Linked DNA regions of Homo sapiens. The protein of the gene in region 1 purifies or fractionates together with the protein of each later gene. This does not show direct contact. Each region holds a gene or a part of one and is shown on either strand. Other genes may lie near its edges.

What was found.
Region 2: the proteins of LYZL6 (region 1) and COL6A1 purify together in Homo sapiens (co-immunoprecipitation; 2 studies listed by BioGRID and IntAct, with this or other methods). This does not show direct contact.

Annotation. Positions count from the first base shown.
Region 1 is NC_000017.11:35,937,031-35,952,213, forward strand, and holds the start of LYZL6 (lysozyme-like protein 6 precursor), read right to left. Parts: upstream 6,684-15,183; 5' UTR 6,537-6,683; intron 2,529-6,536; 5' UTR 2,327-2,528; coding exon 2,188-2,326; intron 887-2,187; coding exon 728-886; intron 1-727. UniProt on the Homo sapiens protein: May be involved sperm-egg plasma membrane adhesion and fusion during fertilization. Exhibits bacteriolytic activity in vitro against Micrococcus luteus and Staphylococcus aureus.
Region 2 is NC_000021.9:45,976,678-45,991,806, reverse strand, and holds the start of COL6A1 (collagen alpha-1(VI) chain precursor), read right to left. Parts: upstream 10,038-15,129; 5' UTR 9,957-10,037; coding exon 9,860-9,956; intron 9,174-9,859; coding exon 9,044-9,173; intron 7,539-9,043; coding exon 7,338-7,538; intron 5,282-7,337; coding exon 5,122-5,281; intron 4,864-5,121; coding exon 4,735-4,863; intron 4,653-4,734; coding exon 4,632-4,652; intron 4,309-4,631; coding exon 4,288-4,308; intron 4,198-4,287; coding exon 4,153-4,197; intron 2,724-4,152; coding exon 2,670-2,723; intron 2,200-2,669; coding exon 2,155-2,199; intron 2,056-2,154; coding exon 2,029-2,055; intron 1,550-2,028; coding exon 1,523-1,549; intron 1,430-1,522; coding exon 1,385-1,429; intron 1,035-1,384; coding exon 981-1,034; intron 829-980; coding exon 766-828; intron 1-765. UniProt on the Homo sapiens protein: Collagen VI acts as a cell-binding protein.

The DNA.
Region 1 (15,183 bases):
GGGCAAGAGGCCTGAGATTTGGGCCTGTTCACTACTATTCTTCCTAACCAGGGTAGATAGTGGTTCACTCAAAGTTTGTGGGAGGTTTCCAGGGAGAGGAAATGCCAAAACACCACAGAGGTATGTCCCGCCTAGTGAGCGGGGGTCTTCAGGCGAGGAGCCGAGGGACATCGGTCAGTGTGCGAAGGCAGAGGTGAGGGGCAGAGTCATGGGCCCTGTCGAGCCTCCTGGATCAGCTCTGAGGTAGGGAGTTTGCACTTGGTCTTTGGTCAGATCATTAGCTAAAGAGGGTACTCCGGAATGGTTAAGAGCCTGTGAGGCCATTAGTCTGGCATTCAATGCTGGTTCTCTTTTTGAGCCTCAGTTTGCTGTTTTGTAAAGTAGGGATCATAAATGGTTTCTACTGCATGAAAGTTGGATGAAATAAGCCAAGTATGTAAAGCACTTAGTGTATAATATTCTCTCAATAAACATTGGCTGCTGCAACTGTTCTACTACTACCAGCTGTATACGGAGCCTTCCTGGATCCTACTCAGGGACTCTATAGAATCTCCTAACTGGATGGGCATTAGGGACACTACTCCAGCCCTCTGCTCAGTAAAGGGATTCCCTGATTTTTTGAACCATATTTCTGGGGCCATTCCCAGGCTGTGGGTGGGAAGAGAAGTTCTGTGAGCAGAGCCTGGTTGCTGCTCTCATCTCTCCCACCCTGGGGCCCTGGCCAGACCTTGACAGTCTACGTGGCAAAGGTTTTCCGAGTAACTCTTATAATCGTTGCACCAGTAGTGGCTGTTGATCTGGAAGAGGCCATAGTCAAAGCTTCCGTCTGCATTTTCATTTATCTTTGATATGTTGAACTTGCTTTCCACAAAAGCCAGGCACAGCCCTTAGAGTAGGGAGAAGAAGGTCAGGATTTAGAGGGGACCAAGCTGAGTGAGAAGGGAGATGGAGGAGAAAGGGAGGCAAGGTTTCAGACAAAAGGAACAAGGCCTGGGAGGCAAGATAGGACTAGAGGGCTTGAAATCTCCATTGACTTGCCCTCTTATCCTGTGGTCCATCCACCCACTCATAAGTACAATTACTCATCTGTCCATCTATTCATGTGTTTTGCACTTACTGAGCACCTACTGTGTGCCAGGAACTGTGCAAAGCCTAGTGAGGGACATTTCAGTTGGGTCAAACACAGATGCTGCCTTCAAGGGGCCTGTATTACAAGCTTAAAAATATGTACCTAAGCTTGTAATACAGGCCTTGTAATAAGCTTGTATGTACAAGCTTAAAAATATGTACAAGCTTAAAAATATGTATGCCGGGCGCGGTGGCTTATGCCTGTAATCCCAGCACTTTGGGAGGCTGAGGCGGGCGGATCACGAGGTCAGGAGATCGAGACCATCCTGGCTAACACGGTGAAACCCTGTCTCTACTAAAAATACAAAAATTAGCTGGGCATGGTGGTGGGTGCCTGTAGTTCCAGCTACTGGGGAGGCTGAGGCAGGAGAATGGTGTGAACCCAGGAGGCAGAGCTTGCAGTGAGCCAAGATCGCGCCACTACACTCCAGCCTGGGTGACAGAGCGAGACTCTGTCTAAAAAAAAAAAAAAAAGGTACCTAAAAAACCCACAAAGCAAGATTAAAGGACAAAAGTGTTGCAAGACAGGTGCACACAACTCCTGGGCAAAAGGGAGATATCCCTTCCATGCAGGAGGAGAAAGCCTTTGTACTAGCTGTCCCCTCTGCCTAGAGTGTTCTTCCCCCAGACATTTGGGTGACCAGGTCCTTCATTTAATTCAGTGCTGCTTAATGTCATCTCCTCAGAGAGGCCTTCCCTGACTTCCCCATCTAAAGAATTCACCATTGCTCCCCCTGCTTTATTCTTCTTCATAGCATTGGTCACCACCAGGCAGTACGTTATGAGTGTGTTTGTTGCTGCTCTCTTCCCCTAGGATGTGAACATTATAAGGGAAGGGAATTTGTTTATCTCTACAGCCCCAGTGCCTAAAACAGTTGTTGGTACATAATAAGTGCTCAGACAATAACTTGAGTGAATACAGCGTGTTGGGAAAGGCTTTTTTGAAGGGGGCTGCTTTTTGAACTTGGCTTTGAAAGATGAACAGGAGAGAAAGAAGCTGGCCATATAGGACATGACTAGCAGAGGAGAAATGGCTGGGGAGGGGCGGATGGTACTCACAGTCACTCAGGGAGTAACCCTCAAACCCATCCAAGTCCTCCAGCTGCAGCACCTGGGCCAAGTCACAGCGACTGATGAGGCTGGCCTGATTTAGGGCAAGAAAGCTGCTGACCAAATAGATGAGTAGCGCCTTTGTCATCCTTGGAGGGGAGGAGGTGCAGCTGAGGGCTGATGGTTCTTAGGGTCTTGCAGACTTTCTGCTGATCTTCTCTGAGAGCCTGGGGAATCTGGAGAGGGCAGCCAGGTTTCCTTACTCACTCACTGCTCCAACCTGGCTGTTTCCAATCTCTTTTCTCTTGTTTATTATTTTATAGATTTTTATTTATCATGGAAAATTAAACCTTTAAAAAAGGAAAGAGAATAGTATCATGAACCTCCATATACCCACTTCTGAGCTTCAACATTCAAAAACCAAGGCCAATCTTTCTTTGTTGTTGTTTGTTTTTTATTTTTTTATTTTTTAGAGATGGGGGTCTCACTCTGTTGACCAGGCTGGTCTTGAACTCCTGGCCTCAAGTGATCCTCCCATCTCAGCCTCCCAAAGTGCTGGGATTACAGGTGTGAGCCACCACACCTGGCCAATCTCATTTCATCCATAGGTCCTCTTATATGGGCACCCAGCTATGGGTAGTATTTGGGTATTGGGATGGGGAGTGAGGTTGGCAAAGGAGATTACTGAAGACTATCTTCACCAGCATATGTGTGTGTGTATCTGAGCATGTGCTTTTAGAAAGAGGGCCAGGACACTGGGTGCTAATCTCCCCACAACCCCACTCCCCCAGACACATGACACATGATTTTTCCCAAGGGCATACCCTGCCTGGTACAATTCTTGGTGGGCTGGCTGTAGACGTAACCTTCACTTTCACATTGTGTATGTGTGTGTGCGCGTGTGTGTGTGTTGAATAGCAAGGGCCCTAGATTCACACTGCCTGCTTTCAAATCCTGGGGTGCTATGTGACTTTGGGCAACATACTCAACCTTTCTGGGCCTCATTTGTAAAATGAAGATATGCTAATACCTACCTAAAAGGGTTGTTTTGATGATTAAATGAAATAATGCCCAGATCTTGGTTCACATTCCACACAAAAGGGAACCAGGACTCTAGGAAATATGGCTGATTCCCAGGCTGGAGCAGGAAAGGGTTATGAGATGTCTGGATTATCTTGCTGTACAAGAAATTTAAAAAGTGCTCGAAATATGTATTGGGGCATGTCAAATGGACACAAGAGCTAGCTCAAAGGGGCACCGACTGGCCAGATCTGAAACGATGTTTTTTGGTAACAGCATTATTGAGATATAATTCATGTATCATACAATTAATTCAGTTAAAGTGTACAATTCAGTGGTTTTCAGTATGTTTGCAGAGTTGTACAACTACTACCTCACTTGATTTTAGAATATTTTCATCAATCCAAAACAAAACCCTGCACCCATTTAGCAGTCACTGCCCATCCCCCACCTCCCAACCCCTGGCAACCACTAATCTACTTTCTGTCTCTATGGATTTGCCTCTTCTGGACATTTCATACACACGGAGTTACAGAAAATATGGCATTTTGTATCTGGCTTCTTTCACTTAGCATAATGTTTTGAAGTTTCATTCAGGTTGGAGCATGTAATGATACTTCATTCCTTTCTATGGTTGAATAATATTTCATTGTATGAATACACCATACTTCGTCTATCCATTCATTAGTTGATGGACATTTGGGTTGTTTCTATTTTTGGCTATCATGAATAATCCTACTATGAACATTAACATACTAGTTTTTGTGTGGATATATGTTTTTATTTCTTTGGAGTAGAGTTGCTGGGTCATGGGGTAACCCTAGGCTTAAGCTTATGAGGCCTACCAGATTTCCAAAGTGGCTGCACCATTTTGCATTCCCATCAGCAGTGTATGAAGGTTCCAATTTCTCTACATCCTCACCAACACTTGTTATTATCTGTCTTCTTGACAAAAGGTATCCTAGTGGGTATGAACTGGTATCACCCTGTTGTTTTAATTTGCGTTTCCCAGATGGCTACGGATGTTGATCATCTTTTTATGTGCTTATTGGCCACTGTATATCTTTGGGAAAATGTCTATTCAGAACCTTTGGCCAGTTTCAAATTGAGTTGTCTTTTTATTACTGAGTGGGAAGAGTTCTTTATATATTCTGTATACTAGACCAGCATCAGATATATGGCAGATATTTTTTTCCCATTCTGTGGGTTGCCTTTCACTTTCTTGGTGGTGTTCTTTGAAGCCCCAAAGTTTTTAATTTTGATGATGTGCAAGTTATCTATTTGTCCTTTTGTTGGGTGTGCTTTTGGTGTCATATCTAAGAAACCATTGCATAATGGTTTCCAACCCAATCTGGGACAATTAGACCATCAGAATAAATGACAGTAACAGATTATACATTAAATGCAATAGGAATCCATGAGCCCATAATAATAATAAATTGACAAAAAGATACATTGTGTGGAGCTGAAGCAGAGACCTCTTCCTGACAATAAAAGGCCAACCGATAAGTGTGGAGGAAGTCATGGAGTTGAAAAATAATCACCATTTTGCAACTATCATAGATTGGTTTGAGAACAAATCATCATTGCATGCTAAATCTGAGGTGGTGGGAAGAATGCTGAAGAACTGGATATATCATGATCTTATAGGGTCTCCCCACAGATTGCTTATTAGTTGCACAGAAAGAAAAAACAAAACAGTATACAGTGGATAACCAGACAGTATTTTGACCTTGCAATCAAAATTAACATCTCCAAAGACGGACAGAGGGACATTGTGTGCCTCCAGATGTGATTCCCAAGGAGGACACATCGCTTATGCAATATTCCGTCCAGGGATGCATAGGCTATGTCTAATCCTGAGGAAACATCAAAGCCAAACTCACTGAAAATCTGTAAGATAACTGGCCTGTATTCTTCAAAATGGCCAATGCCATGAAAACTGAAAGACTGGCCAGGCATGGTGGCTCATGCCTGTAATCCGAGCACTTTGGGAGGCTGAGGTGAGAGAATTGCTTAGGCCAGGAGTTTGAGACCAACCTGGGAAACAGCAAGACCTCATCTCTACACTAAAAAGAAATAATACTTCCAATAAATCTGAAAACCTGGGACTATTTCTGTCACTGAGGGAAGGTGTGTTTTTCCCCTTAACTTAGGTATATGCTGCTGAGGGGGCAGAAGCCTGAGTTCTTCCACCCGCCGCCTTCAAGTGTCAGGCGGCTTCTGCTTGGACAAGATGGCTACCCTGGTGGGCTTGTTTCTTCTCTGGTCTTGTTATAGGAGGCAGAAAGAAACTACTTAGGTAGACAGTTAGGGTAAAGTGAATCCCCAGCAGAAAACTTTCCTTTTAACGCAAAGCAGCTCAAAGATAGCTCCCTTTCTAACCTCACGCAGTTCAAGGAAATCACTTTTCTTCTAACAACAACCAGCCTGAAAGAGCAAAGGGTAAAAACAGATAAGAGCTCAGGCACAGAAGGATGGGGGAAGTCTCCTGGGTAATCACCAAACTTCACACTTATACAATGGGCCCCAGTAAAACAGTGGGCCTTAATAACTACATTCCTTTCTCTTTAGGCGCGCTAAGATAGGGAAGCTAAAAGCAGAATCGATGGGTATGCCTACAGCTGCAAGATGTGTGGGAATAGACACAGAAACTCTCGCTCCCAGATAAGCAAGACAAAGAGACACAGACTAAAAGTTGATGTGGTCGGGAATGGGGTGAGAGCCTATTAAAAACTCTGCTCTATACAGATAGCACACCTGGTCCCAACTGAACCATCGGGCTCTAGGAGGATAAGACATCCCCTCCTCATGAATGCCCCTCTCTAGCCCATTTATAAAACCCTGACGTTTTTACTACCACCTGGCAACCTGCCTGGGACCTCTGTCTGTGACAGAGAGCTGTTCTTTCCTTTTGCCTATTAAACTCCTGCTCCAAACTCACTCTGTGTGCGTGTGTGTCTGCGACCTCGATCTCCTTAAACGTGAGACCACGAACCTTGGTATTTACTTCAGACAATGAGGCTGCTTCTGTCTCTTGTTCTATCTGAGACTCGTTCCACACCAGCCTGAGCTTCGGGCCATTCTTTTGCTTCTCCCATCATTCTACCCCCAGAGCTGACAGATTTGGCAAATAAAATTTACAAGATGCCCTGTTAAATTAGAATTTCAGACAAACAACCTACTCCACACTGACTCAGGAGGGTCCCTCAGAGATAGATGTCACTGAGCCTCGGGAAGCAGGAAGCTCCATCCCTGCCCATTAAGCCCCCTCTCAGGGTCCCCTCAAGGAAGACAGTGGCTCCAGAAGGTATGTTCCCACCCCTTCCACAGCTTACCTCTCTCCCATCCCTCTCTGACCCTGGGTTCCACCTGGCCCAGAGATTTCTGGGAGGATCTGTAGAACAAGGCTGTCTACAGTAGGAGCCTCTTCTTCCTCACCACATACACTTCAGCCCTGCCCAACTAACAGCTCTCCATGTTCTAAAGAAGGCTTCTGGAACCCCAGTTCTGTGACGTCATCCATCTCCTGGAAATACACTGGTTTTAACCAGGCAAATTGGCCAAGCATCAGGCAGAAGTAGCAGCTGGGCCTGGGAGGACAGGTGACATCTGTGAGGAAAATGGCCGGGTGGGATAGGGTGGAGAGCACTGGCTGTTTCCTTCATTTTTGGGAACAGCACCACCTTTGGGGGGACTCCTTCCCTCATGGGGTTTTAGTGGGGGCTGCCAGTCCTGGGGTCCTGCCCCCCACCACCCCCCATAAGCATAGGAATGCTTGTGTGCCAGTCACTATATTTGTAAACGGAAGCTGGTGGAGCTGCTCAGCTTCCAACAGGAAGCCCATGTGTGCAGGGCCAGAGGACATAGCCCATCTAAGGTGCTAAGCCTCCGTGAAGAGGGAGCGGAGTCTGGACGGGATTCCAGCCCCAGGGTCCACCCTTTCTGGGACCCAAACACACCCTTCCCCTCCCTTCAATTCTGAGATTCAATAAATGTCCCCACTCACAGAACAAGTTTGAGTTGGGTTTCTGTCACTTGCAGCCAAAAGAGCCAGTTGTAGTCGGCATGGGGTCAACCATCTGTGATATGGTGACCTGACACCCTGTCCCCTCCCTGTGAAGGCCACAACATCCCAACATCATTAGTCACCGAGGAAGTCTGGGAGAAATTTCTACCAACTGTAGCAAAAAAGAGGCAAGGGAGAAAACATCTTGTTACTGACGGCCCACTCTTCCCTCTGAAACAGGGAGGCAGGATCTGACAGAAAAATAGGACAAGGGGCTTCTGAGTGGGCAGTGCTGCCCCGTGCCCCTCCAGACTTCTCTTCCCAGCAGGGCAGCAGTGCATGGCACCCTGGGATAGAAGGCCTGCAGGGGCAGAGGGGAGGCTGAACATGCTGGGGGCACCACTTTATGAGAAACCATTTGTGGCCAAAAATCTACATGGGCTTCAGATGACCTGAATGAACTCGTCTCTGTAGAGTGAGAGTCCTGGGCAGGAGGAAAGGTTTCCATAGCCAAGGACCACATGCTTGGAAATTTGATCTCTGAAACTTAAGATCTGAGAGAGGATGGTCTCCCAAGGAAGTCACATGAGCCTCAGTTTAATCCTGTTGGTTTGCAGAAGTTTCCACTCCCTCTGGAGGCTGGGTTGGGACCTCCTGCTGGGCTGCAGAATATTTAGTCTCTTTGATAGGCTCTGAAGTTATGGTCATTCAAAGGGGGTCCAGAGGGACCCTCCACCTCCAGCCCCCTAGCTGTGGCAAACATGGGTAGATTCCTACCCATTCAAACAACTGGAAAACCCAAGCTGGGACCCATGAGTCAAGTCAGCTCAGGGCAAGAGGACAGATGGATACCATAGGCCATCTGTCTCAATATTTGCAAGTTATAAATTAAACTAACAGACTGTTAAAGTATGTCCTACCCTCATACTCTGACAAATATTCCTTTAAAAGGATAAAATTTTAAAATGTGTATGAAGCTATGATTTGTATTTTTTTTTTTTTAGAGATGGAGTCTCACTCTGGAGTGATCTCGGCTCACTGCAACCTCTGCCTCCTGGGTTCAAGCAATTCTGCCTCAGCCTCCCGAGTAGCTGGGACTACAGGTGCATGCCACCATGCCTGGCTAATTTTTTTTTGTATTTTAGTAGCGACAGGGTTTCACCTTGTTGCCCAGGCTGGTCTTGAGCTCCTGAGCTCAGGCAATCTGCCTGCCTCGGCCTCCCAAAGTGCTAGGATTACAGGCGTGAGCCACCACGCCCGGCCGATTATGTTATGTTATGTATGTTAAAGTATGTCCTATCCTCATCCTCTGACAAATATGCCTTTAAAAGGATAAAATTTTAAAATATATATGAAGCTATGATTTGTATATGACAGAAAGTTAGCAAAATGTCAAAGATCATGAAATTTCATGTTTATTGCGCATGTCTGGGTGCTCTGTTGATGGGCTGACAATATTGGGATGAGTAATAAAGATGTGGAATTTATAAATTACTGAAACTATTCCATGAAATGTATTTTTCTTATCTTTCAGCAAAATCGGTAATTATGTTATTATTATCAAGATTTGAAAATACATGTAAGGATTAAAACAATCATATTCAAAGTACAAATATCTTAATATTTTCATCAAAATTATGTTTATGTAAAAAATTTAATTTTATCAGGAATATTTTCCCAAAAGTTAGTTTTCTTTTCAACTATTGAAAAGTATCCATTAAACCAAAAGGCAACATACAAATTAGAATTAGTCAAATTTTTACGTCAAAATGATTGAAATAAATCCATTTTATTTTGATTTTTGAAAACTTGATTAATTTTTATTAATTTTAAATTCATAATTCTAGCATTCAGTGACCACCAATGTAAAGAACAGGCATCATGGTTTGTCTGAGGGCTAGACATAGATACAAATTTTAGAGTAATGTGTAATGTGATTTGTTTAACCCTTTTTCTGTTTGCCCAGAGAATACTCACTGGTGGCACCTGCAGCTGCAGTGTTTACCCCAAGATAACTTTGCCATGAAATATTTAACACAAAGGGTAAATGCTTGAGGGGATGGATACCCCATTCTCCATGATGTCTTTATTATGTATTGTATGCCTGTATCAAAACATCTCAGGTGCCCCATAAATATATACACTTACTATGTACCCACAAAAACTACAACTAAAATTTTAAAAAGTAATGAACTATTGCCACACAAAACAACATGGATAAAACTCAAAATAATTATACTGAGTGAAAGAAGCTTGACAAAAAAGAGTACACACTGTATGATTCCATTTCTAGAAAGCACTAGAAAATATAAACTAACCTATGATGATAGAAAGCAGATCAGGGCAGGGTACAGTGGCTCACACCTGTAATCCCAGCACTTTAGGAGGCTGAGGTGGGCGAATCACTTGAGGTGAGGAGTTCGAGACCAGCCTGGTCAACAAAGTGAAACCCTGTCTCTACTAAAAATATAAAAATTAGCCAGGCCTGTTGGCACGCACCTGTAATCCCAGCTACTCGGGAGGCTGAGGCACAAAAATCACTCGAACCCAGGAGGTGGAGGTTGCAGTGAGCCAAGATCATGCCACTGCACTCCAGCCTGGGAGACAGAGCAAGACTCCATCTTAAAAAAATAAATAAATAAAATAAAAACGAAAGAAAAGAAAAAAAGAGAGCAGATCAGTAGTTGCTTGGGGGTGGGGAGGTAGAAAGAGCAGGAAGCAGGATCACCAAGGGCAACAAGGAAACTTTTTGTGGGAACGGATATCTTCACTATCTTGATTGTGATAATGATTTCAGGTGTATACCAAGGGTCAGATGTTACCAAATTGTAATCTCTATATATGCACAGTTTATTATATGTCAATACCTCAATACATCTGCCTAAAATGTTTAAAAATTACTGTAATTATACAAAATATATTTTATGAAAAGGAAGTTATGGGTGGGCATGGTTGAGAACCACAGCATCAGATAGATTCAGAAGTGGGGGAAAAGCATCTCCCACTTCCCCTTCTTCAGGCCAGCGTGCTGTGCAATTTATCCAGTGGACACTAGAGGACAGCAGCGACTCAGGTAGAGGAAGTGGGCGTTTCAGGGCTTGAATGCTTAGAATTCTCTGCTCTGTGCTCCCTATCCTGGGCGGTGGGCGGTGGGCGTTAATACCCCCATAATACTCAGTTACCGCTGGGACTTGGGCCCTGGTCTGTGGCTCTTGATTCCACCTTGTTGGTCCCCCAACACCAGGAGAGCTCTCTGTGCTCCCAGATTTTTTTTTTTTTTTTTTTTTGAGATGGAGTTTCGCTCTTGTTCCCTAGGCTGGAGTGCATTGGCGCGATCTCGGCTCACCGCAACTTTCGCCCCCGGGTTCAAGCGATTCTCCTGCCTCAGCCTCCTGAGTAGCTGGGATTACAGGCATGCACCACCACGCCTGGTTAATTTTGTGTTTTTAGTAGAGACGGGGTTTCTCCATGTAGGTCAGGCTGGTCTCGAACTCCCGACCTCAGGTGATCCACCCACCTCGGCCTCCCGAAGTGCTGGGATTACAGGCGTGAGCCATGGCGCCTGGCACTCCCATTTCTTTTTAAAAGGATATCCTGACTCCAGTGAGACAGCAGCCATAGTTCCCTGTCTGTTATCTGCAGGGCTGATATGGAGGATTGCAGATGTCACCAAAGAGTTGTGGTTCTCAGGCTGGGCACAGTGGCTCACGCCTGTAATCCCAACACTTGGGGAGACCCAGGCCGGTGGATCACATGAGGTCAGGAGTTCGAGATCAGCCTGGCCAACATGGCAAAACCCATCTCTCCTAAGAATACAAAAAATTAGCTGGGCCTGGTGGCACACGCCTGTAGTCCCAGCTACTCAGGAGGCTGAGGCAGGAGATTTGCTTGAGCCCAGGAGGTGAAGGTTGCAGTGAGCTGAGATTGCACCGCTGCACTCCAGCCTGGGCAACAAGAGTGAGACTTGGTTTCAAAAAAAAAAAAAAAAAAAGTTGTGGTTCTCAAGGGCCTTTGGAAGGCCTCCCAGCTTGCCTGAAATCCACGATTATAAAGCCCGTCAAAGTTGCATCATCAGACGCTGCAACATCACAGGTTAGCATGTCCCTGAGAAAACGACACACTGAAAGGTAATTTTTATAAGAAATAGGGAAAAGAGAGAAGGTTCAATTGAGGGGTAGGAAAATATGATGGTGGAGCCCCCTTACGGTGCTGCAATAGAAGCTTCCCCCCAAAAAGCAATAGTGGTCTGGGCGCTGTGGCTCAGTCCTGTAATCCAGCACTTTGGGAGGCTGAGGCGGGTGGATCACTTGAGCTCAGGAGTTCGAGACCAGCCTGACCAACATGGCAAAACCCCGTCCCTACTGAAAATACAAAAATTAGCTGGGTGTGGTGGTGTGTGCCTGTAATCCCAGCTACTCGGGAGGCTGAGGCAGGAGAATCACTTAAACCTGGGAGGCAGAGGTTGCAGTGGGCCCAGATCATGCCACTGCACTCCAGCCTGGGTGACAGATAGAAACTCCATCTCAAAGAAAAAAAAAAAAAGAAAGAAAGAAAAAGAAAAAAAAGCAAATTGTGAGCATACATTGAGCCATCCCAGTGTGTGAGGCATGATGCGGAACACTCTATGCAGGCAGTCATCTCATCTTCACAGCACTCTTACTAAATAAACTGCAGAGAGGTGGCGGGGTGCAGTGGCTCACGCCTGTAGTCCCAGCACTTTGGGAGGCCGAGGCGAGTGGATCATGAGGTCAGGAGATCGAGACCATCCTGGCTAACACGGTGAAACCCCGTCTCTACTAAAAATACAAAAAATTAGCCGGGCGTGGTAGCGGGCGCCTGTAGTCCCAGCTACTCCTGAGGCTGAGGCAGGAGAATGGCGTGAACCCAGGAGACGGAGCTTGCAGTGAGCCAAGATCACGCCACTGCACTCCAGCCTGGGAGACAGAGCGAGACTCGTCTCAAAAACAAAACAAAACAAAATAAACCACAGAGAGGTTAAAAAATGCCTAAAGGTCCAGGCGCAGCTCACATCTGTAATCCCAACACTTTGGGAGGCCAAGGTGGGTGGATCACTTGAGCCCAGGAATTCAAGACCAGCCTGCGCAACATGGCGAGGCCCCATCTCTACAAAAAATTACAAAAATTAGCCAGGTGTGGTGGCCTGTAGTCGCAGCTACTCCTGAGGTTGAGGGAAGAGGATCCCTTGAGCCTGGGAGTTTGAGGCTGCAGTGAGCTATGATTGCACTACAGCCTGGGTGTGAGAGTAACACAGTCTCAAAAAAAAAAAAAAAAGAAAAGAAAAAGAAAAGCAGTTGTGGACACACATTGAGCCCTCCCAGTGGGTGAGGCACAATGCCAAACACTGTATGAAGGAAATAATCTCATCTTCACAGCATTCTTACTGAATAAGCTGCAGAGAAGTTAAGAAACGCCCAAAGTCACAGAGCTGATAGGAGGCAGTGCAGGATTTGAATCCAGATTTGACACTAACGTATGGATCTAGCTACTGCTCTGCAGTACCCACTTAAAGGGAAGTGTTTTTCTTTCTTGGTTATTTAGTTCATGTGTTAAACTGGTTGGTGTTGGTAGCAGATGGTGAGTATTATAGTTCAGCCTTCTGGAGAAAGCTTGTCAGGCTTCAAGAGAATGTTAAGCATCTATGATGGTCCTAGAGGGAGGTTCCCCTCTCCACCCCTTCACTGCTTTACATGGAGCACTTATAGTGTGTGAGGTTCTGTGTTAAGGATGATACTTTCATAATGACGGTATCTGAAAGGCAGGTGGGCAGAGGCCAGCAACAAGGAATTGAAGGGTCAGTGATGTAGCAATCCAGTGACATTGTTCATTTGCACACACATGGGTCTGTCACATGCAGCCCAACTCACCTGGAGTCCTGAGAAGGTAACCAGACCAGGATGGAGGCCCAGGGAACTCACCAGAAGTTCTCAAGCATCAGAACACGGTGAAAGCATCCTGGTAGGCAGATAACACATGCCCACGGTTTGTGAGAGAAAGTCCTCCAGCAGTTTCTCTCCTTCCCCTTGGCTTTGACCTGGCATACCTGGGATCAGGCAGTTGATTCTCCAGGCCAGGTGCCTCAGGGAGGTGACCCTTCCTGTTCTGGGTTCTGCAGAAGCCAACAGCTCTGGGCTTGTGCCCATCAAGCACTCTTCTGCCCATTTTACTCTCTCGTGGATGCATGGTGGTGTTGATACAGGCCCTGAGTTAAAGGCTCCATGGCCGCCCATGACAGGAGGACAAAGCAAAAGAAAGCCAGAGTTAAACAGGCCCCTTGGGTCCCCTCCTTCACTTCATAGATGGGAAAACCAAGGTCTGGGCAGGGAAAGGGATTCAGCCAAGGCCACAGCGCACTGATGGCCACGCCAGGGTTAGGATTCCCAGCACAGTCTGTTTCTCTCATACTCCGCAGCCTTCTCTAATAATAGATTTTGGGTTGGGTTCTTCTTTATCAAGCGCTGGTCACACATTATCTCTATCTTTCTTAAAACAATTGTTCTTTAATATCATTATATATTCAGTCAGTGTTCAAATTTTCAACTGTTTTATGTCAAAAAGCCTTTTCTAAAGTTGATTAAATCAGGATTGAAATAAGATGCACACATTATGATTAGTCGATGTCTTTTAAATCTTTTAATCCATGGATTCCTCTTTCCTCTTTCTCTTTTTCCTTTTATTCTTGAATAAGCCACATCATGCCTAAACACCTGAAATCCTTCTCATTAAAGAGAAAAAAAAACACCACAGGAAACGTTACTACATATATAAAGATGAAGATAGGAATTGCTTGTGAGTGAAGCAATGAAGTCTGAGCACAATGTGGAAACTGGAAATCAGAGGTTGCATTTTAAAAATCTCCACTCTCTTCTTTAGATAGATTGGTGATTATTTTACCTATTTCATTTTAACTATCTTAAACACAACGTAAGGAACCTAAAGAGAAAACTTGTCAGCAATTGATCTGTCCTTTCAATGAACAGTGAATGCCACGGCGTATGTCTACCTGGGTACAAATCTCCTTTGCTAATAAGCAAACAGTGAACCTCTAAATCAATGTAAACTTTCATCATGTTTCACTTCAGTTGATTCCACACGTTGAGGCTAAGCACAGCTGAGCAAATCAGCTGTAAAATCCTAAAGTAAGAAGATATCATTTTAAAGATAAAAATTGTGATATTTAGGCCAGGCACGGTGGCTCATGCCTGTAATCCCAGCACTTGGGAGGCAGAGACGGGCGGATCACGAGGTCAGGAGATCAAGACCATCCTGGCTAACATGGTGAAACCCCATCGTCTCTACTAGAAATACAAAAAAAAAAAAAAAAAATTAGCCGGGCGTAGTGGCGGGCACCTGTAGTCCCAGCTACTAGGGAGGCTGAGCCAGGAGAATGGCGTGAACCCGGGAGGCGGAGTTTGCAGTGAGCCGAGATCATGCCACTGCACTCCAGCCTGGGTGACAGAGCAAGACTCCATCTCAAAAAAAAAAAAAATTGTGATATTTAGACAAAGCATTCTTTTACTGATTTCATTTAAAAAACCATCTGTGCTCTTGGCTGAACGTTGTGTGAATTTGATCCTGTCATCACAATGCTAGCTGATTATTTTACACACTAGTTGATGCAGTTTCTTCATAGTGTCACTAGTCTTTATATTTTGGTGTATTTTTGCAGTGGCTGGTACTGGTTTTTCCTTTCCGTATTTGGTGCTTCATTCAGGAGCTCCTGCAAGGCAGGCCTGGTGGTGATGAAATCCCTTAGCATTTGCTTGTCTGGAAAGGATTTTATTTCTCCTCTGCTTCTGAAGCTTAGTTGGGATGGATATGAAAATCTGGGTGGAAAATTCTTTTCTTTAAGAATTTCTTTCTTTTTTTTTTTTTTTTTGAGGTGGAGTCTCACTCTGTCACCCAGGCTGGAGTGCAGTGGCGCCATGTTGGCTCACTGCAACGTCTGTCTCCTGGGT
Region 2 (15,129 bases), on another chromosome or scaffold:
GAGGCCCAGCCAAGGGCCATCTTGTCTAAGGGGCAGGATTTGGTTCCCATTAGAGAAGGCACAGCTTTGCCAGGCTGGCAAATTGGCAAACTCAAATCTAGGGCCTGGAGGGTAATCTGGGAACTTGAAGATGAGATTTGGAAACCGTCTGCTGGGTTCTAGGAGCTCGTCTGGGAATGTTTGGGGTGGGGTCAGCATTCGCCTTTGTCTTCCCCAACACTTCAGCTTCAACAAAGAAACTCCAGAGAAAACACCAGCAACGGCAGACTCAGCTGTCAGACGAAAAAGCTCCTTCTCCCGCCTCGTGCTCCCGCCCTCCCGCTGCCCACTCGCCCTCCCACCCGCTCACCACCCTCCTCCCGCCCCCGCTCACCACCCTCCCGCCCACTCGCCACCCTCAGTGCCACCCAGCCCATTCTCAGTTCTGAGAGCCATTCTGGGCTGCGGCTCGCAGGCTAGGAGTGACGCGGTGGGGTCCCATCTGTGCCGAGCGAGCGGCAGGTGCGGGGGACAGAATGGCGGAGGCCTGAAGGCCCTCGGGCTGCAGGGAAGGCTCTGGGCGGGAGCGCCACGGCCACTGTCCCCACGGTGGGCACTGTCCCCGCTGCTCCTCTGCCTGCCTCCAGCCTCCACCAGCTCCTCCCCTCTGAGGCCGCACGGGTGGCCGACATGCTCGGACCAGGACTTGCTTCCAGGAGAGGTTTCCAATTCAGCGCTTGGCCAACCGTGAAGGCCCTGGTCCTCCAGGGGCCGCAAGTCACTCACCTTTTCTCCTTTCAGTCCAAAGGCACCGGGGTCTCCCTTGGGGCCAGGGGGTCCTTGAATGCCCTGGAGAAAAGAGGGCAGCATGACACCACCGGCAGAGGCCACCGCGGCCTCTGGCAGCAGCCCCAGACCGCCCAGACAGAAGTCAAAACGGTCCACACGAGGTGCTGCTGACAGCGCTAGTTTTAAAGTATCAGTGAGAGGAAGTGACTTACGTCAAACCCGGGCGAGCCCTTGCAGCCTGGCAGGCCTGGGTACCCCATCTCCCCCTGGAAAGAGGAAGAAAACTAGAAAATCTGACGGCCAAGTGGGTAAACTGAGGCCAATCAACTGTCAGACTTGGTGCCCTCCATGCCCTCCACACCCTCCCTGGAAAGCCCTGCCTAGCAGACACCCCCCTGGGGTCACCTTCACACCGTCCACCCCACTCCTCCCTGTCCCTCCTGCCGGGATCACCTCACCCCATCCCTCCCCGTCCCTCCCCGTCCTTCCCCTGGTCACCTTCACACTGTCCACCCCATCCCTCCCCGGGTCACCTTCACGCCGTCCACTCCGTCCCTCCCCATCTCGCCCCATTCCTCCTCGTCCCTCCCCGTCCATCCTATCTCCCCCCAGTCACCTTCACGCCGTCCACCCCGTCGATGCCACGCTTGCCCTTCTCTCCCTGTGAGGCGGGAAAACGAAGGCAGGAGTCAGATGCAGGTCAGACATGCTGCCGTGGGGGCAGAACTCCCCCCTCCCAGCAGCCCACGCTCACCTTGTAGCCCTTGGGTCCCCTGGAGCCCTGCGGAGACAGGAAGCGGGTGTGAGGGGGTATTTGGGGTGGGGAGGGCAGGGCAAGCCTGGCTTAGGCCCACGCGAGGCAGGGGCTTGGGTGCCCCCAACCCGAGGGGACAACATCACTGCTGAGAATCATGGGGACTGACAGTGATGGGGAGGGGCCGCTCTGCAGAGGGTAACCGCCCGGGGGACCCCCGGCTCCGCAGAGGGTAACCGCCCGGGGGACCCCCGGCTCCGCAGAGGGTAACCGCCCGGGGGACCCCTGCTCTGGGGTGGGGTGAAAGTGACACAGGCGCCTTTGCTGGGTGCCTGGGTGGCTGTCCTTGTCCTTCCAGATGGAGGGGACGGCGAGGGGCGGTGGAGCGGGTCTGCAGGACACGTGGTCTCCTGTCAGGGACACTGTCCTCATCCCCGGGGACACCCTCGTCCAGGATGGCACATCTGCGCCTGGAGAGACCAGCTCCGAGGTCGAGCCTCACTCACCTTCTCCCCACGGCTCCCTTTTTCTCCCTACACACCCAGCGGAAGAAGAGGAAGAGGAAGGCTTGTTAGTGCTGTGCAAGGCTGAGGGCACCACCGGGCTCGGGCCAGGAAAGGGGGGGCACGTACCTTCATTCCCTGGTACCCAACAGGTCCGAGGTCCCCGGGTCTTCCCTGGAACACAGGAGGAGATGGTGAGACACCCCCGGAGGAGCAGGGGCAGGGGCCAGTCCCACCCAGCCCCACACCCCTCCCTCCAGCCCAGGCCTGGTCAGGCCGAGAGAGGGGCCCTGCTGCACGGGGCCCATGGTGCCGAGGCCCTCCAAGGTGGAGCTGGGGGAGGGAAGTCTATGGATAGGATTTGGGCCAAGGAGCCACGGCAGGGGCCCCGGACGGTGCCGGCCTGAGCACCCTGGGCCACCTCCCCACCCAGCCCCTCCCTGGCAGGGGGGCTTACGGGCTGCCTGGGGGGCTGTGTGGAAGGATGGCTGGGCTGTGGCCCCTCCAGGTCTGCTCCCACCCACAAGGAACAGGCAGTGTGACTTTGGCACTCAGAACCCAGCCACTCTTCCGGAAGTTTCCGAGGCCTAGTCGTTCCCCGCCTCCAGCTTCTTAGGGCCCCCACCCCACAGTCAGGCACTCACAGGATCTCCGGCTTCTCCCTTCTCTCCTGGGAGCCCCGGCTTGCCTCGTTCTCCCTGGAACACAAAACAGGTCAAGGTTGGGGCAGCCCCGTTTCTTTCTAAAAAGCTGGCTCACGAAACAGGTTTTTAAAAAGACGCTTCATCCAGCCTTCAGGGATCAAGGGCTTTAAAGCACCTTCCCCATCACATCTGGTCAGCCTGGGTCTGGGAGCTCCAACCCGCACGCCAGCTCCCCCCACTCCCTGCCTTCGTTCCTGTCTGCTCGGCTTTGCTGACCCCCAGGCACAGGTGGGAGGGACGTGCAGCACAGAAGCCCCCCAGGGTCACAGCTCGACCCCCAGGAAATGGCCATGGGACTCGGGCCCACAGCTGCTGGGTTTGATGGTTTTTAGGAGAAGCCAGAAATCTGAGGTCCATGAGCAGCCTCATGGCAAGTTTTAATTATCAGCAGCTAATTCTAACGTTTAAGGTCATCCTATGTGAGCCACACAGAAGCAGGGGACCCACATTCTCACCCTCCTACCTCCAGAAAGGTCCTTCTGAACAGAGTGCGGCTGAGGGCAGGGCGGACAGAGACACCCTCAGAAGCCCCCAGCGCCCCCGGGACAGTCCACACCCTGCACGGCCGGAGCCTGCCTGCTGGACCCCGCCGTCCCTTCCATCTGGACCCCGACATCCCCTCCATCTGGACCCCGCCGTCCCCTCCATCTGGAGCCCCGACGTCCCCTCCATCTGGACCCCGCCGTCCCCTCCATCTGGACCACGCCGTCCCCTCCATCTGGACTCCCGCCGTCCCCTCCATCTGGACCCCGCCGTCCCCTCCATCTGGACCCCGCCGTCCCCTCCATCTGGACCCCGCCGTCCCCTCCATCTGGACCCCGCCGTCCCCTCCATCTGGACCCCGCCGTCCCCTCCATCTGGACCCCCGCCGTCCCCTCCATCTGGAGCCCCGACGTCCCCTCCATCTGGACCCCGCCGTCCCCTCCATCTGGACCACGCCGTCCCCTCCATCTGGACTCCCGCCGTCCCCTCCATCTGGAGCCCCGACGTCCCCTCCATCTGGACCCCGCCGTCCCCTCCATCTGGACCCCGCCGTCCCCTCCATCTGGACCCCGCCGTCCCCTCCATCTGGACTCCCGCCGTCCCCTCCATCTGGAGCCCCGACGTCCCCTCCATCTGGACCCCGCCGTCCCCTCCATCTGGACCCCGCCGTCCCCTCCATCTGGACCCCGCCATCCCCTCCATCTGGACCCCGCCGTCCCCTCCATCTGGACCCCGCCGTCCCCTCCATCTGGACCCCGCCATCCCCTCCATCTGGACTCCCGCCGTCCCCTCCATCTGGACCCCCGCCGTCCCCTCCATCTGGACCCCCGCCGTCCCCTCTGGATCCTCATGGTGGACTTGGGTGCCCAGGAGGCTTTGGTCCTGCCACCCCCACTCCCAGGCCCCACAACACATGGGAGGAGCAGGAGTCACCACTCACCTCAAAGCCGGGGTCGCCCCGGAGCCCCGGAGGTCCTCTTGCAGGCTGCAAGGCAGAGGGGACGGTCAGCCAGGACCCCAGACTCAGGTTCCCAGGGTGCAGGGCGCGGGGTCAGGGGTCGGGGGGCACACTCACCTGGCATTCGAAGGAGCAGCACTGTGGGGGGAAAGCATGGAGACGAGTCAGTGGGAAAGCCACGGACATACGGCTGGGACACAGGGTGACATGCGACCCAGGCACATGGGCAGACGGACACACGGATGGACGCACAGGCGGACACATGTCCCAGGCACATGGGCAGACACACAGGTGGACACGCAGGGGGACACACATCCCGGGCACACGGGCAGACACGCAGGGGACATGTGTCCCGGGCACATGGGCGGATATGCATAGGGACATGCGTCCTGAACACACAGGTGGACGTGTGGGTGGACGTGTGCAGACTCACGGCTGGGGGTGGTGGGGAGGGCTCTTACCACTTGCTCCACGTTATTTTTCTGGAAAGAGAAATGGAAACGCAGAATTACTTTCCACCTGCGGCCGCCGCGGGCCTCCCCGTCTCCTGGGCAGGGGCCTCACGATCATGTCCACGATGGTGTCGATGGTCTGGCTGATGGCCTCCTCTGCGTCGCGGCTCTGGCCCCAGTCAGCCGCCGTGAAGTTGCGCCGGTACGTGTGGTCCGTGGCGATGATGCTCAGACGCGGCTCCTGGGGGCAGTGTTCAGGGTGGGCTGAGCAGGGCTGGGACCCCTGACGGCCGGGGCCGCTTCCCACAGGGCCAGAGGGGAGGCTGGGCTGGGGCGCTCCAGGCTCCTCAGCAGGAGGGGCTGGCCTCTCAGGGGCAAGGGTGGCCGGCTGGAGAACCCACACCCTCCCGAGGACCAAAAGACGGTCCCAGCTGCCGGGGGCCTTGCAGCCGCCACTCCCTGTGGTTGGGGGCATCTGCCGGGGGGGGCCGGTGCCTACCAGGTGGTCGGGTGTGATGGCCACCGAGAAGACTTTGACGCCCAGGTGCTTGGCCTCGTTCACAGCATCCTCCAGCCCCCCACAGGGTTCCTTGTAGCCCTCCAGGGGGTGCCCGTCGGTCACCACAATCAGGTACTTATTCTCCTTCAGGTGGGAGCCCCTGGACAGGAGAGGGCAGCGTGAGACCTCGAGACTAGGTGGGGGAACTGGAGGGAGACCCAAGCCTGTCCGGGAGGTGCTGGTCCCTGTCTCACCGGGAGGAGCCGCCTCTCTTTGCTGATCCTGGCTATACGGTGGGGGTTACTGAAAAGAACCTCACCATGGGAAATAACGCCTGTGGGTCTCATTTCTCTAAACTGCTTTGGAAAATCCACGCCCTCCCAGGAGAGGCACCCATGACCCCAAAGGAGGCTCGGTTCCTGGGGTGCCCTGGGGCGCAAAGCCCCTGACCAGTGAGTGGAGGCTGAGGGTGGCAGGGAGCGTGCCCCTCCGAGATGCCCGCCGCGTCTACCCACAAGCTGCCTCAACTCAAGGCTGCTCGGTCACCGTGGCTCTTGCAGGAAATGGGTGTGATGAGCAAACAACAGGGCGATCCCTGAATGCCCCAAATCCAACCCCCCGAAAGGGAAAGTGGGAGCAGCAGGAAGGAGGGCAGTATCGCAGGGCAGTCGGGCAGCCTGCTGGGGACGCTGAGCATCTCGGCCAGAAGGGCGAGCTCATTTAGGGGAGTCGTGTCTGTCTGTGGCTTCCACAGGGGGCCGCACTCTGACGTGTGTGGCCACATCCCCCATGCACCCCCTGCAGACAGCGGACGACTTCCTGAGACTCCAAGTCCCCCAGGTCCCAGCTTGGCACCAACTCTGGAGGGAAGTGGGCACAACCATTGGAAAGGGAATGTCCGGCCCACACCGGCCATGTGGCCCTCTGAGACCGACCTCGGGGAGAGGCTCTCCCCAAACCCCCCGCACCGCCTGGCTGGACAGGGCAGCCTCGGGTACCCCCACTGGGATCCTGAGGCCTCGTGAAGGGCTGGGTGTGGGGAGGCCACGTTCCCCTCTGGACACTCCGGGGCTTGCGGCCCCTGCGTCCCCACAGCTGGACACTGGGATGAGAGGAAACCCCTCAGTCCAGAAAAACCCCGAGAAAGCGCATGCTTCGGGTCTGATGAGTCTGTTTCAGTGATCCTAGCCCTGCTTGGTGTTGATGCTGTGGGGAAAACCACCCCGTCTCTCTCAGTCTCTCAGTCTCTCTGCCTCTGTTTCCGGTCTCTCTGTCTCTGTCTGTCCCTGTCTCTCTGTCTGTCTCTGTCTGTGCTTCTCTCTCTGTCTCTCTGCCTCTGTCTTTGTCTCTCTCTCTCTGCTTCTATCTCTCTGTCTCCCTCTCTGTCTCTATCTCTCTGTCTCTGTCCCTCTGTCTCTATCTCTCTATTTCTGTCTCTGTCTCTGTCCCTGTCTCTGCTTCTCTCTGTCTCTCTGCCTCTGTCTGTCTCTGCTTCTCTCTGTCTCTCTGTCTCTGTATGTTTCTGTCTCTGTTTCGCTGTCTCTGTCTCTGTCTCTCTGTCTGCCTGTCTCTGCCCCTCTGTCTCTGTCTCTCTGTCTCTGTTTCTGTCTCTGTCTCTGTCTGTCTCTGACTGTCTTTGTTTCTCTGTCTCTGCTTCTCTCTGCCTCTGTCTTTTTCTATCTGTCTCTGTCTCTCTCTGTTTCCCTCTGTCTCTCTCTCTTTCTGTCTCTGTCCCTGTTTCTGTCTCTCTGTCTCTGTTTGTCTGTCTCTGTCTCTGTCTCTCTGTCTCTCTCTGCCTGTCTCTGTCCCTCTGTCTCTGTTTCTGTCTCTGTCTCTCTCTGTCTCTGTCTGCCTGTCTCTGTTCCCGTCTCTGTCTCTCTGTGTCTCTCTCTGTGTCTCTGTCTCTGTCTCTGTTTGTCTCTGTCTGCCTGTCTTGGTCCCTCTGTCACTCTTTGTCTCTGTCTCTCTCTGTCTCTGTCTCTATCTCTCTCTGTCTCTGTCTCTCTCTGTGTCTGTTTCTCCCTGTTTCTGTTTCTCTCTGTCTCTGTCTGTCTCCGTCTCTTTCCTGCCCACAAAGTGGGTCAGGGAGGCCGTGCAGCCTCCAAGAGAACAGGGAGGCTGCAGCTGAAGCCGCACAGGGACCCCAGGCCAACCCCAGCCCAGGCTGGGTACCACGCGTGAGAACTGGCGTGGGCAGGAGGCTGGGGGCCACTCACCCCACGAGGAGCTGCTCCAGCCCCTTCTTGATAGCGCAGTCGGTGTAGGTGCCCTTCCCAAAGTACTTGACCGCGTCCACGCTGCTTTTGAGTGCGTCGCGGCCGCCAGGCATGCGCGTGAGGCCTTGGATGATCTCCACCTCGTCACTGTAGTGCAGCGCGCCTGCGTTCCACACCAGGTTTCGGTCACAGCGGTAGTACCTGCCAGGAACAGGCACGGCGGGCGTGAGGCGGGCGGCCCCTGGCGCCATCGCTACCCGTCCCAGGGCGCGACGTCACCCAGATGGACAGGCTGCCCCACCCTGGCCGTGGCTGACACACAGCTGGACTTGCCCTGTGGCCCTGAGGCCGGCCCTCCTGGAAGGCTGTGCAGGCGGGTGTGGCCAGCAAGCGACCTGCGCCCCGATCCCTCAGGCCCTCAGACCAGGAGCCCTGAGTGTGTGGCCCTGCTGGGGTGGGGTCCTTGGGCCTGCAGTGGGGCAGCATGACAGTGGGGGAAGGAGGCACCCCGGGGATCTGAGCAGCCCCCTCGCTGCCCTCTGAGCACCTGAGCCTGAGGCTCTCAGGGGTCTGCTCTGCCCCAGCCTGGGGTGGGCCCACCTCTGCCCCACCCACCCTCCCATCCATTCAGCAGAGTGACCACGGCGCCTGCAGGAATCCAGTGGCAGCGACATGGGGATGACTCCGCCCCATTTCACAGGTGGGAAACTGAGTCATGGGGAGACTGAGTAAAGGCAACAAGGGCGACTCGGGGGACGCTGGGCCACGCGGCCGCCCCTCCCCGGTGCCATCCACAGCCAGACCCCCCCCCAAACACTGCCGCACGGGCCTGGCCATGTCCACTAAGCTCAGGGTTCCTGGTACCAATGGCTCCTGCTGGGCACGGTGTGGGCTGGAAGGTCCACCCTGCTGTTACCGGCAGCCTCTGACTGTGCCCCTTCTGGTGGCGGGAGGCTCCGGCCCAGCGGCCAGTCAGCAGGGTCAAGGAGGACGGGGGTTCCTACGCCGGCTAAGCTGTGTCCCCACTGCCAGGACCCGTCTCAGTGGGGGAGCCCCGTTCTACATGCCCCCCCCTCAGCGGCCCTGTGCACCCACAGGACCGACTCCCCTCTCCCCCCGGTCTGTCCTCAGCCACACGCACAGATGGAGGAACGTGGAGCAGAGGGTGCCGTGTCCCAAGCCCAGAACCAAGCCTGGGGGCCCTGGGGCTGCAGAGCGACACCCCTCCTGGCTCCCGAGTCGGGGACCTTCAGAACGTGGGATCCAGGACCCAGGTAGAGGCTCTCACTGCCCACGGAACAAACCAGGGTCCAGGTGGTTAGTGAGGGGCTCCCGCGCACCAGGCAGGACTGCGTGTCTGGGCCAGTGCGCTGAGCCCTCTCGGTCAGCCTGCGGGAGCCTCTCTTCCCTACATCTCAGCCTCACTGTCACCTCGGCCCTGCTGAACAGGTGCCACCCCCGCGAGCAGGGTCTCAAACCAGCTCACTCTGGAAGGCGCTGGGAGAGGCTCAGACCAGCTCACTCTGGAGGGCGCCGGAAAGGGCCCCGGCCTCACTCTGGAGGGCGCCGGGAGGGGCCCCGGTCAGGGCAACGCTCGCCCAACCTTAGGAGGTTGAGGCCGTCGCACCCGTGTTCCCCTGGGCCCCCACCCCTCCCTCCAAGAGGCCCAGAAGCACAGGAGGAAGGTCACGGGGCGTCCCTCCTACCTGTCCCTCAGGTTGTCGATGAAGCGCTTGGTGAAGGACTTGACTTTGTCCACGAGGGCCCCGTAGGGCTTCAGCCTCAGGGCCACGCTCTCAGAGGTGTCCAGCACAAAGAACAGGTCCACGGGGCAGTCTGGCCGAAGATGGAGGAGAGGGGCCTTCAAGCTCTCGCCCCATTCCCCGAGTCTCTGCTGGGCCTGCCCTCCCGGCCAGCCCAGCGCCTGCAGCACAGAGCCCCGGGCCCGGAGAGGCTCTCCCGGGAAAAGGCAGCAGGACGTCCCTCGGTGGGGACGGTGGGGAGGGGGTGGAGTGAGAGACCCCAAACCGCTCCTGTGCCTCGAGGGGAGTCAGAAACCTTCACAACCTCCCCCGAAGGGCAGGGCGTCCCCGGCACGGGACCGGACAAGTGAGACCTCACGGGAAGGTTTCTCGCTGGATTCAGAACCAGCAGCGCACGACTTCTTCTAGAACGGGGGTCGGGGGGGCCGTGCGTCTGGACTCACTGCCAGGTGAGGGGTCAAACGGATTCACGGGGCGCCGAGACAGCCCCGCACCAGCTCCCCCTCGCCAGGGAGCCCCTCCCGAGCTGCCTGCGGTCCGGCCCCGCTGAGAATGCTGAATGCTGAGCCTCTAGGGGCCCCGGCCAAGGCCCGGTGGGGCAGAGCTGGGCGCTGCAGCCGCCCCGAGCGGGGAGTGGGGTTCAGGGGCTCCAGGCCCCCAGTCTGCAGTTCCACGCGTGGGAGGGGACCCCGCGCATCTGGCCCTGGCCGGCAGCAAAGAGCGGGGGGTCTGGAGCCTGCACCCCAAGCCACCACTCACCCTGGAAGGCCACGGCCCTCGGGGTCTCCGGCTCATCCTGCGCGGCTGTCCAGCAGGCCTGCAGCAGCAGGGGCAGCAGAGCACGGGCCGCCCTCATGTCTGGGGCCTGCGGTCACCACACAGCGCGGCCAGGGCAGAGTGGGCCGCCGCCGCCGCCCAGAGACCGAGGCTGCCTTCTGCTCCCAGCCAGAGTGAGAGCGGAGGGCAAGGAGGGGAGGGGCGGGGCGAGAGGGGCGGGAGGGGAGGGGAGGGGCGGGAGGGGAGGGGAGGGGCGGGGCGGGAGGAGAGGGGAGGGGAGGGGAGGGGCGGGAGGAGAGGGGAGGGGCGGGAGGGGAGGGGCGGGGCGGGAGGGGAGGGGCGGGGCGGGGCGGGGAGGAGCGGCCCATGAGTCACCACCTCCTTGCTGGGGTCTCTCCCTCCAGAACCGGCAGCAGCTCCGAGCCCAGGGAGAAGGCGGTTTCCCTGGCTGGCTCGCCGCGGCCTGCAGTTCAGTTCCCGTGTCAGGGAGGAGGAAACTGCAGCAGCTGAATCAAACGTCTGAAAACCAGCGTGTCACCCAGGGAGAGTTCCTTGAAACATCTTTCGGTAGTTTCCAATCCAGACGTCTCCATGCGGGACGCACGGGCAGGCTCACTCGCCTCTTCCCACCAACCGCCTCCTGCAGAGGACCTCGCCGTGAGCTGAATTGTTGCTTTATCAGATCTCCGCGTTCTTTTTTCACGTCAATATTTCTTCACAGTATAGTCGGATACGTATTTGCCAAAGATATTTCAGTTTGTACCGTGGGAAGACAAAGTTGCTCACAATATAGTTGTTATATATGCTGTGTGTGGAGACAGAGAGACAGAGACAGAGAGACAGAGAGAGACAGTGAGAGAGAGACAGAGAGACAGAGACAGAGAGACAGACAGAGACACAGACAGAGGAGAGACAGAGACAGAGAGAGAGACAGAGACAGAGAGAGACAGAGAGACAGAAAGACAGAGAGAGACACAGAGAGACAGAGGAGAGACAGAGACAGAGAGACAGAGACAGAGAGACACAGAGAGACAGAGAGACAGAGAGACAGAGACAGAGAGAGAGACAGTGAGAGACAGAGACAGAGAGACACAGAGACAGAGAGACAGAGAGAGACAGAGACAGTGAGAGAGAGACAGAAAGACAGAGACAGAGAGACAGACACAGAGAGACAGAGGAGAGACAGAGACAGACAGAGAGAGACAGAGACAGAGAGAGACAGAGAGACAGACAGAGAGAGACAGAGAGAGAGACAGAGACAGAGACACAGAGAGAGGAGAGACAGAGAGAGACAAAGACAGAGACAGAGAGACAGAGACAGAGAGAGACAGAGAGGAGAGACAGACAGAGACGGAGAGACAGAGACAGAGAGACAGAGACAGAGAGACAGAAAGAGAGACAGAGAGAGGAGAGAGGGGCTGTCCCTGATATCACCTGGGGGTGGGCTCCAGATGTGGCCAGATGCATCCCTGGCCCACAGAAGGTCCCAGAAGAGCTTTCCCAAAGCTGGAGCTGCTGAGACTTGCCTAACACCAGCCTAAATGTCTTATAATTTTAAAACGTACACAAATTGTTCATACCAAAAACCATGTTAAAGAAACATTTGAAAAAACCTTTAAAATTGATACTTAATTCCACAACTCCACAGTGACTGTTTTTGGATTGCCTTCAATATTTTCCCCACACCTACGTTACAGAAGTTGTAAAGTACTTCTCCTTCTTTTCCTCCTCCTCCTCCTCCTCCTCCTCCTTATTATTATTATTATTATCTAAGGGGCTCACTCTGTCATCCAGGCTGGAACGTAGTGGCCTCATCACAGCTCACTGCAGCCTCAGTCTCCTGGGTTCAGGTGATCCCTCCACCTCAGCCTCCCGAGTAGCTGGGATCACAGGCATGTGCCACCATACCCAGCTAATTTTGTATGTTTTGTAGAGATGGGGGTCTCACGATGTTGCCCAGGCTGGTCTCGAACTCCTGGACTCAAGTGGTCCTCCTGCCTCGGCCTCCGAAAGTGCTGGGATTACAGGCATGAGCCACCGTGCCTGGCCTTGTACACTTACTGTACAGTCAATTTACCTGCCACTGATGTCATCCACACTGTGGCTGTGGGTGCTGAGGTTTGGTGCTGCCTGCTTGGAGCTGTGGCACCAGCCTCTGGGCTCCTGACTCAAGCACAGGGGGCTTCAGGACCTCCGTGTTCTCTTGGCCTCTCCCAGTCTGAGCTGTTTTATCTGCAAGGAGTGCTTGCAGATTTGGGAAAGGAAATAGGAACACGTTGTGTAAGCAAACACCAAGAATGCAGCATTCCCTGCAGTGAGGGTCCCACCACAGGCACACAGCAGCAGGTGGCTGACACACGGTCTGTAAGATGGAAGAGATGCGGACGCCCAGGGACAGGTTCACGGGGCCCAGTGGCCAATGGCCTGTTTTGCCTTGCAGAGGTGGTTTCATAAGTCAGTTCACAGTATACCACCGGCTCCGCCAGCAGGTCCGCGGGGTGGGTGCGGCGGGAGCTGTGGAGATGCGTGGGAATAACGCCGACACCCCAGGCTGCAGCATCCTGAGCTCCAGGGCCGCGGTCCGACTCCTCCCCCGGTCCCAGGCTTCATCCTGGCCTGGGCTTCTCCGAGGCAGGGCTGGGGCCGCACTGTGTGAGGGGCTCAGGCTCAGGGCGGTCCCAGGCCTGGGTGGGGCCCAGAGGTGCCTCTGCTTCACAGGAAATCTGCAATGATGACTCAGAGTAAACTTGACTCTTTCTCTTATGAAGAAGATACATGTTCATCATAGCGAATTTTTTAAAATCATAAAGCAACATCTAGTTTCACTACCGAGTGGGATTCAGAGCTAATACTTCAGTGTGTTTCTGCTTAAGCGTTTTTCTTTTTTTTAGATGGAGTCTTGCTCTGTCGCCCAGGCTGGAGTGCAGTGGCACAATCTCGGCTCACTGCAACCTCCGCCTCCCGGGTTCAAGTGATTCTCCTGCCTCAGCCTCCCAAGTAGCTGGAACTACAGGCACATGCCACCATGCCCAGCTAATTTTTGTATTTTTAGTAGAGGTAGGGTTTCGCCATGTTAGCCAGGCTGGTCTCAAACTCCTGACCTCAGGTGATCCGCCCTCCTCGGCCTCCCAAAGTGCTGGGATGACAGGCGTGAGCCACCGTGGCCACCGTGCTATAAGTGTGTTTATAGACGTGCTGTCGCCTGCTCTGTGCACCGTACCGTGAGCGTGTTCATAGACGTGCAGTCGCCTGCTTTGTGTTCCTTCATGCACTTTCATCAGGGATCTTTTCTGATTGTAAGTGATGCTTATGTCTCAGGGAGAACATGAAAACCACATAAAGCATGAAAATAAAACATCCTGAATCCCAGTCCTGGCTGAGCTTACTGTTGTCATGGGGCTGATTTCCACAACCTGCCCCACCCACAGCGGGTGAGCTCCCTCCGCTCCCCCCCTCCTCTCTCCTGTCCCCTTTGCTCCCTCTTTTCTCTTCTCTCCCCCTCCCTCCTCTCACGCTCAGTCCTCTCCCTCTCCCTCCTCTCATGCTCACTCCTCTCCCTCTTCCCTCCTCTCCCCCTCCTTCCTCTCACGCTCACTCCTGTCCCCCTCCCTCCTCTCTCCTGTCCCCTCCTCTCCGCCTCCCTCCTCTCATGCTCACTCCTCTCCCCCTCCCTCCTCTCACGCTCACTCCTGTCTCCCTCCCTCCTCTCTCCTGTCCCCTCTCCCCCTCCCTCCTCTCACGCTCACTTCTCTCCCCCTCCCTCCTCTCATGCTCACTCCTCTCCCCCTTCCCTCCTCTCCCCCTCCCTCCTCTCCCCCTTTTCCCCTCTCTCCCCCTCCCTCCTCTCACACTCACTCCTCTCCCCCTTCTTCCTCTCTCCTGTCCCCTCCTCTCCCCCTTCCCTCCTTTCCCCCTCCCTCCTCTCACACTTGCTCCCCTCCCCCTTTCCTCATCTCCCCCTCCCTCTTCTCCCCTGTCCTCATTCTCCTCTCCGGCTCCCTACTCTCCCCTTCACCGTCTCCCTCCTCTCTCCCATCCCCTATTCTCCTCCTCCCTCCTCTCTCCCCCCCTCTCCCCCTCCCTCCTCTCTCCCCCTCCCTCCTCTCTCCCCCTCCCTCCTCTCTCCCCCTCCCTCCTCTCTCCCCCTCCCTCCTCTCTCCTGAAGTTACCCAGGTGTCTCTGGCACATGTCCACCCCCAAGCCCCCATCCAGGCCATTCCTGCAGGAGATCCTTCTCCCATGGGGCTCCACCCCCCAACCCCAGCCCAGTCGGCTTCCAGGATCCTAGGAAGCACAGAGCCAGGAAACCACTGCCCTGGGGGGCCTCCCAGAGAGCTGCACTGCAGGGTCTGGCTGGGAAGGGCCCTGCAACCCCGCCTGTGTGTGGGGGGAGGTAAATGCACTTCCAGAGAAAGGGAAGAAGGGGGCGAGCCACATCCCCTCCCTGGCGACCTGGCTGTCCTTTCTCAGGCCTGCCGGCCCTTCTGTGGATGGGGACTCTGGGCCCAGTCTGGGATCCCAGAAGCAGCTGTGGGGAGCAGGACTTACCCCACTGTGCCAGTCGTCCACAGCCCTGGGGGGATCTGAGTCTCCAGGTGTGGGAAGGGAGAGGGTGGGAGAAGGGAGAGAGTGGGAGGAGGGAGAGAATGGGAGGAGGGGAGAGGGGGTGGGAGGAGGGAGAGGGTGGGAGGAGGGAGAGGAAGAAGGATGGAGGAGAGGGCCTTGAATGTGCAGTGTCCCTGGCAGGGCCTCTCTGACTCCTGCGGGTGGACCCGAGCCTCCTCTTCCAGCAGGACCTGGCTAAGAGGGGATGAGGATGGAGCATGAGGTGGGCTTGGTGGAGGAAGCTGTCCCGGGAGGCAGGGGAGGGCAGGGCTGTTTCTGGAACCTGCCTGCCCTCCACCCCCACCCCCACCCCCACCCCCATCAGGACCCTGCGTTCAGGGAGAGGAGCCCCCCAGTCCACCTTGAGGAGCCCTGGTGCCTCCAAACGTCAGCGCGGGGAAAAGGGGAATTATCCACCGCTGTCCTGTGTTAGTGGTTTTCTTAAACCCATAAAAGTGGTGGAACGGGAAGGAAAGACCATCCCAGGAAACTGCCTTTGTCCACAGGGAAAGTTGCAGAGGAGACTCAGTGCTGCTGGTGGCTGGTGGGAGCCCCAGGGCTGCTGGCCCAGGCCCCGCTTCTGTCCTTCCCCTTTTGGACCAACCGTACCCCCTCCCCTGTTGTGGGAAGTCAGGGACCCCAAATGG